Linked DNA regions of Homo sapiens. The protein of the gene in region 2 purifies or fractionates together with the protein of the main gene of each other region. This does not show direct contact. Each region holds a gene or a part of one and is shown on either strand. Other genes may lie near its edges. The genes, in order: ROBO1 and ROBO4.

The links.
Region 1: the proteins of ROBO4 (region 2) and ROBO1 purify together in Homo sapiens (co-immunoprecipitation; one study listed by IntAct). This does not show direct contact.

Annotation. Positions count from the first base shown.
Region 1 is NC_000003.12:78,634,413-78,638,237, forward strand, and holds part of ROBO1 (roundabout homolog 1 isoform a precursor), read right to left. Parts: intron 1,697-3,825; coding exon 1,361-1,696; intron 1-1,360. UniProt on the Homo sapiens protein: Receptor for SLIT1 and SLIT2 that mediates cellular responses to molecular guidance cues in cellular migration, including axonal navigation at the ventral midline of the neural tube and projection of axons to different regions during neuronal development.
Region 2 is NC_000011.10:124,891,366-124,895,190, reverse strand, and holds part of ROBO4 (roundabout homolog 4 isoform 1 precursor), read left to right. Parts: coding exon 1-110; intron 111-821; coding exon 822-990; intron 991-1,145; coding exon 1,146-1,331; intron 1,332-1,460; coding exon 1,461-1,503; intron 1,504-3,058; exon of another isoform or gene 3,059-3,388; coding exon 3,389-3,525; intron 3,526-3,628; coding exon 3,629-3,825.

The DNA.
Region 1 (3,825 bases), on a different chromosome or scaffold from region 2:
AATGCTTCTGCTTACTTAGGCAAAGGTGAAAATCCAAATGATAAGCTTGCCACTGGAATGTAGTCAGTAATAATCTGTCGTCTAGTTGCATTCCAGGTTCTTTATTATGGTCTGACATACCAAATCTGCTTACAAGCAGTATAAACAATAAATCAGAGTTCTGAAATATTTGTGCGGAGGCTCTCAGGGCTTTCCGAAGTCCACAGTAAAACAATATACTATGAAGGAATAATGTGACAATAGTTTGAATCACCACTGCAAACTCCATGATTACAGAAACTGTCCTGTTCATCTTTGTCAGTTTTTGTTATGAACTTATGCAGGAGTCTCGATCCATATTTATTAAATTGGGTTATTATACCAATCAAGTACTTTCTTAAACTTGAGAAAAGCCTAGCTGACTTCATTCTCGAGTTAAAACATAATATTAACTTAAATGAAATTTTTAAGTTATATTTTTGTCATCTTCAACTGTGATAAATCGCATTTTCAAAGAAAATGTTCCCAACCCAAACCTAAAGAAAATGTCTATGTCTCCAATTATCTCCAGTGTATTCTTTACCTGGAATAGGTGGGGATGCATTGCCCCCATCTATTCACATTAGAGCAATCCTGGTTTTCCTAGAGGTATAACTTTGCAAATCATGATATTATAGCAGTAGCCTAAAGGACTACAAAGAAACCAAACACCTATCTTTTCCAACTCATACACATTACAATACAGAAACATTTCCTTCAGGCCACAGAATACTATTCTGCGGCTTCAAGTTAATACTAAACTCAATTTATTTTAGGTTCTATACGGACAGACTTCAATCAGGTCAACCAAGGAAATTTAGGTTCTAAAATTATACACTGTAGCAGTCTTAATAACCACACGAGGTGGGAGACATACAACAAATTGAACCACTTCTCCAGTTCAAGTTTAATTTAATTATTTTATTTCAGGTTGATATAAAAATGCCATTGGTTTATATAACCACATAGAAGCAATTATCTTCCATCCTCTAGTGGAAAGAATGGGATAGTCTATTTATTGAAAATGCGAGGTATTGTGACAGTTGTACATCTGCCTCATGAATAAAAGATTGTCCGTCCCAATCCCTCACCTGCTATTAAATTTAAATTAATCTCAAAACCATTTGAAAATACTTATATATTATTATAAAATAAATTTTCCAAGGTTATTGTTGTGCTAATTAACTCTTTGACACTGGAAATTTTGAAACCAAAGAAATAAGAAAATCTCAGCGACAGAAGAAAAGATTTTACTTGCTAGTCGCAGACAAGTTTCAACATCTAGTCGAGGTGCTGAGAGTATCATACAGAAACAGATGGGAATACATGCAAGCCTCTTCACCTTTGTTCAGCTTGTTTTGCTCCACGATGTTGTACTGAACTGGTGCCACTTCTTGTTTCTGCTGTCCCAGTGGTTTCCAGTGCTTCTCGCCAGAGTCCCCGCTGCCATTGTTCATGTTGTTGCTGAGGTTTGACTGGATGAGCTGAGTGGTGGCGTAAGGAGTAGGCTGCCCTGATGGATTGACAAAACGCCCATCCTTCAGATTTGGGCTATTGAAGGTTTTCATCTCATTGATTTTGTTACTAAGGTCCACATCACCATAAACAGTTGACTCAGGGAGCATCAGATTTGTTTGTTTGTTATCCAGTTGGTTGTTATAATTTGCTATACAATCAGCTATGTGCAATGGAGAGGAAAAGGAAAAAATCATTCTGCGTGGTTATTCCTTTTAAATTTCTTTTTACGTAGCTTTGCGAGTCATCAGAAAATCGTTATGTAAAGTACAAGTGGGCTTAAATAAGATCAATAAAAACGGCCAAATATCCACATGTGCTTTCTAAAGAAAATTAATAATTGAAAAAATAAAAGAGGGTACACAGAATTTGTAGAGACTAAATAAATTTGAATTTCTGATAGTGCTGAAGTAAACAATTCATCCAATTTAAAATAATTTTCATTTAATAACCTCATTAATAGGAATTCCACTAAAATAATATATACATGTATATCTTTATGTGTCAACTTTTTATTTTCTAGTCTTTGGTTACTGAATTATTTGAAGCTACTGGTTAGCTGCTGAAGCAACAGACAAAGCACATAAATGAAAAATCCAAAGGAAAAAACTATTCATAGATCAAAGAACTTGAGATTTTGGTATTTTATAAAATACCTACATTTAAAAGATATGGGAACAGGGGTAAAATGATAGTAAATGGTACTAAGGAGAATTCTATTAGTTCTTGTTGTAGTCCTGTTGGATAATCATTATCCGGAAAACATGCTATATAATTATTTTCTCATGGTTTCATAATGACAACCAAAGAAATATAAAATGACAATAATAATAATAACAAAAGGAATCATAGTAACCTGGGTAATTGAATCAAATAAGCCTGAAATAATACTTAAATATCTAATATCTCATTTCCACTCCAGTTTTCTCTCTATTGAAATATTTGGACATTAAATAACTGAATATACATACATAATATATACATTCATTTTATATATATATATATATATATATATATATATATATATGGCCTGCAGTTGAAAATATTAAAATGGTAGGAAGAACTGAAATCATATTTTTAAATTAAAATAGATTTTAAATAGAAAAATTAGTTAAATTACAATGGTAAAAATGTCATTATTTTATGCATGTTGTCCAAAAGTGGTACCAACATTAACAAGTCACCTGTAGCATTGGTTTTTAACTGGATATGTTTAAAAATTATAAATTAACATGTTTGTTACTAAAGATGTAAATGTGAATATAATCTTAAGAAAAATGTGTAATTTCTCTATCCTACTGAATTCAACTATTCTGCATTTCAACCATGAACCGTCAGGGAACAGAAATATTTGATTCATCTGGACTTTGTGATTCTTATTTCTAATTTCTAGTTTTGTTTAACAGTGGTTAAGAAATACTATAAAGATCATGTGGTTTTTGCATTCTCATTTTGTTTCGCCAATCTGTCTATATTTGTGTTATCCAACAGAACTTTGGAGATATTGGACATGGTCTACTCCACTTTGTCTGATACAGCAGCCACCAGTCACACGTGGCCACTGAGCACTAGAAATGTAGCTAGTGCAAAAGAGGGACTGAGTTTTAAACTATATTTTATTAAATTCAATGTAAATAGCCATCTGTTGCCAATGGCTACCATATTGGACAACACAGCTCTACCTATTAAATGGGTATCGCCATTTTTTCTCTCCTATAGGTCTCAACCCAGTTTTTCTTGTACTTATGATTACATGAGTATCTATCTGTCTAGACATTCAGAATATGGGCCTCTAGAGGACAGAGACTTGGTCACATGGATACGTCACATCCACGTCCAGTGGACACTCAGGATTCGCTTTAAGGGCAGACATGCAGACTGCTCTATGATTTGTTCTTTATAGTGCATAGCATCTTTACTTAAATCCAACTTCTCTCTCGCCTTTCCGTAATTCCACAGGTTATTTTACTTCTATCATCATAGAGATTCCATACAATAATTTTAATATTTCCTATATTGGCAATATTGGGTTTTTTTTTGGGGGGGGGAGGGGTTGTTTGGTAAGAAATCTTTGGTAATTTTTATTCCTTTAAATCTTGCAGACTGTACATCTGATTTTTTACTATTATGTTTTGGCATGAAATTTTAGCAAGATAATTTACTCACACATACATCTGACTCAAAAAACAAACAATAGAAAATAAATGTATGCATGCACACCTGCAGTGTGTGTGTGTGTATATATATGTGTGTATGTGTGTATATATATACACTTATATACATATATGTATG
Region 2 (3,825 bases):
CCAGTGCCCCACCTCAGGAAGTGACTCTAAAGCCTGGCAATGGCACTGTCTTTGTGAGCTGGGTCCCACCACCTGCTGAAAACCACAATGGCATCATCCGTGGCTACCAGGTACCCCCACTAGCTGTCATAGCCCTTCCTACTGCTGCCAGGACATCTCTTTTCTCTGGAGTTCTGCATACCCTTGCTCTGGGCACTGAGAAAGGTACCTGGGCAGAGAAGCAAAGGAAACCTGCTTTTGCTGAGCAAGGACCCACTGGCTTCCAGACCCTGCCAAGCACTTGACCTCCATGATCCCGTTTTACCTCACAGTCCACCCTGGGGTATTATCCCCAATTTACAGACATGGAAAGTGGGGCAAAGGCCACAGGAATAAGAAACAGAGTAGATCAAACCAGGCTGTGAGTCAGGGAGTGGGGCTCAAAGTTTGACTTCTAGAGCAGCAACATCAGCCTCACCCAGGACCTTGTTAGGAATACAAACCCTCAGATCCTTTCCCAGGCCTCATAAATCAGAAACTCAGAGATGGGCCTGGCAAACTGTACTATAGCAGGCCCCCCTGGTGACTTGGAAGCACGCTGTTGTTTGAGAATTGCTATGTTACATGTGTTTTAGCAGCTTGCTTGTGCCCTTCTACTGTTGATCTAGAGAGAGGTATCTCTCACTTGGTAGGGAGAATAGGAGGGGAATAGGAAATTGGGTGCATTCCCCAAGTGGATGGCAGGGCAGAATAACCACACCCCTGGAGTCTGATCTGCAGATAAAGGGCTTGGCTTCTGGGATGGTGCCTGGGGAAGCTGTTCACCTCTGCTTGTGCCTCAGGTCTGGAGCCTGGGCAACACATCACTGCCACCAGCCAACTGGACTGTAGTTGGTGAGCAGACCCAGCTGGAAATCGCCACCCATATGCCAGGCTCCTACTGCGTGCAAGTGGCTGCAGTCACTGGTGCTGGAGCTGGGGAGCCCAGTAGACCTGTCTGCCTCCTTTTAGGTGAGGGCAGTGCCCACAGACCCACCCTACCCTTCAGCCTGCATCCCGCCTTCCTCTCTCCCTGCTCCCGCCTCACACTTCCAGCTCTTCCCCCTTGCCTGCCAGGCCCTCAATGCCTCGACTCCCTCTCCCTCTGAGCTCTGCATCCCATACAGAGCAGGCCATGGAGCGAGCCACCCAAGAACCCAGTGAGCATGGTCCCTGGACCCTGGAGCAGCTGAGGGCTACCTTGAAGCGGCCTGAGGTCATTGCCACCTGCGGTGTTGCACTCTGGCTGCTGCTTCTGGGCACCGCCGTGTGTATCCACCGCCGGCGCCGAGCTAGGGTGCACCTGGGCCCAGGTGAGAGTCTGAGGGGGACCCACATGTATACAGGCCTCCTCAGCATCCAGCCAGAATGGTGCAGGGGCTTTGGATCTCTGACCAGGTGATCCAGCCTCTGGATTTAGCTTTCCTCCTGCCTTCTCCCAGGTCTGTACAGATATACCAGTGAGGATGCCATCCTAAAACACAGGTGAGAGGTGAAAGGGGAGGTCTGAAGTAAGGGAGGGTGGCAAGGGACAGTGGAGCTGCAACAGAGAAGAATGGAGTACTAGTCTACCTGCCAGGGAGTTTGGGACTGTCGTACATGAATCTCTCCTGTAACTCCAACTGATAGTTCATTTCTCTGTCATTAATATTCCTATCACACCACTTGACAGACTAGTAAACTGAAACTCATAAAACCTTCTAAACCCCCAATCCAGGACTCTTGTCACCCCACCTCTCCTGCTGCCTCACCCGCTAGGTGGAGAATAATCAGCATGAGACGACCACCTCAAATGTCTCATCTTATGCGTGCACCCATGGTCTACCAAGTAGTGCCTTTGCACTCAGTAATTCTCTCACTGAGCCATTGTGCCTACATCATAGTCCACCCGCAGCTCCAGCAGAGGGTGTTCAGTGCCTACATCATAGATTCTTCCTCACTGTTCTCAAAAACAGGATCTGCCCATGGGCCCTTCTGCTTCCGGTATATTCGGCTGCCAGAACAAGTCTGCAGTTCTGGGACATCATGCTGATAGAGAACACATCCTTCTTGCTCCCGTTGTCTGAGTTTTGTACTAAGTAACCGCCTCATCTCTCTGTCTGCCTTCTTGGCTCTTTATTTCGCTAGATCTCCTCTGGGAGGCTTCCCACTCCAGGTCTGCATCTATCCACAGAAGTTACTGAGCACCTACTATGTGCCAGCAAATCCAGGCCTAGAGCTGCCATTTCACTGTCAGGTCCTCAGCCCAGAGCAGGGGTCCAAGCTGGCTGGTGTTGTGTTTTGAGTTTTCTGAGCTCACTGGCTTCTTTCTTCCAGCTACCTCCTGGCTTTGTCTGCTCTGCCTTAAGCTTTCTGTGGCTTCCCTAGGATCTCCTGCTCTGTCCTTGAGGGAGATTCCTTCTGATCTTTGGTTCATTCTTTCCTTTGGAATAGCCTCCACCTGCCAGAATCTCTCAGTGTAGGCAGAGACAGGCATGAGGGGATATGAGTGCAATCCTGTATTGGCCACGCAGAAGCAGGTACAAGACACATGGAGGGGGTCAATGTGGAAAAACATAGGAGAAAGAAGATTCCACATTACCCTGACAGTAAGAAGGGGATGGAGAGAAGAGCAATGAAGCAGCAAGTAATAGCCTGCTATGTCCACAGGGAAAGACAAACCATTTGTTCTGGCTCGGGTATAGGGTGTGAGATGGGTCAGAGCAAAGGCTATAGTTAGGGAGCTGGAAGCCAGACCAAGGAAGGTCCTCTTAGCCATGCTAGGTACCTGGGCTCTATCATGGTAAATGAGGGGCCATTGAAGGTCTTACGCAGAGAAGCTCCTTGCTCAGATCCCTGTTCTTGAAGGATCACTCAGGCAGCCAGAGGCCAATATCCATGGAGCAAGCTCCTGCTCTGCCAGCTGAGTGATCTCACATTTCCTCATATAAACCCAGACCATCAGTCTTGAGTGTGGAAGGCCCTATTGCCATCATTTTACAGATGAGAAAACTGGGGCTTAGAGAGGATGTACTTACCCAAGTGCAACAGATGTACTTACCCAAGCTAAGCTGTGACAGATAGAGATTGTCAAACCAGATTTGTCTTCAGGTCTTCTTTTTACCTCAGCATACATAGCTGTCTGTCATTACTACCTCCCAGCTCTGGGTGACTCGGATTTCCCCTCATCCAGGAATAAGAAAGGGGTGCTGGGTTTAGGGGACCAGGTCAGAGATCTTAAGGAGTCTGTGAAAAGCTGAAAAGCAGTAGTAAGGATAAAGCCACCATCTCCTTGCCCTCTTCTGCTGCCTCTGAACAGGAAGTCTTGGCCAAAAAGGTTCTCACTTCTCCCTGTTTCTCCTGGCCTCACCCCCTCCCTCCACTGCCCCAGGATGGATCACAGTGACTCCCAGTGGTTGGCAGACACTTGGCGTTCCACCTCTGGCTCTCGGGACCTGAGCAGCAGCAGCAGCCTCAGCAGTCGGCTGGGGGCGGATGCCCGGGACCCACTAGACTGTCGTCGCTCCTGTGAGCATGCTCAGTGGGGGCAAGGGCCTAGCTGGGGGCAGTGATCTCAGGGATGGAAAGCAGGACATGCTCACCATAATTCCTCCTGTCATTTATGTCACAGTGCTCTCCTGGGACTCCCGAAGCCCCGGCGTGCCCCTGCTTCCAGACACCAGCACTTTTTATGGCTCCCTCATCGCTGAGCTGCCCTCCAGTACCCCAGCCAGGCCAAGTCCCCAGGTCCCAGCTGTCAGGCGCCTCCCACCCCAGCTGGCCCAGCTCTCCAGCCCCTGTTCCAGCTCAGACAGCCTCTGCAGCCGC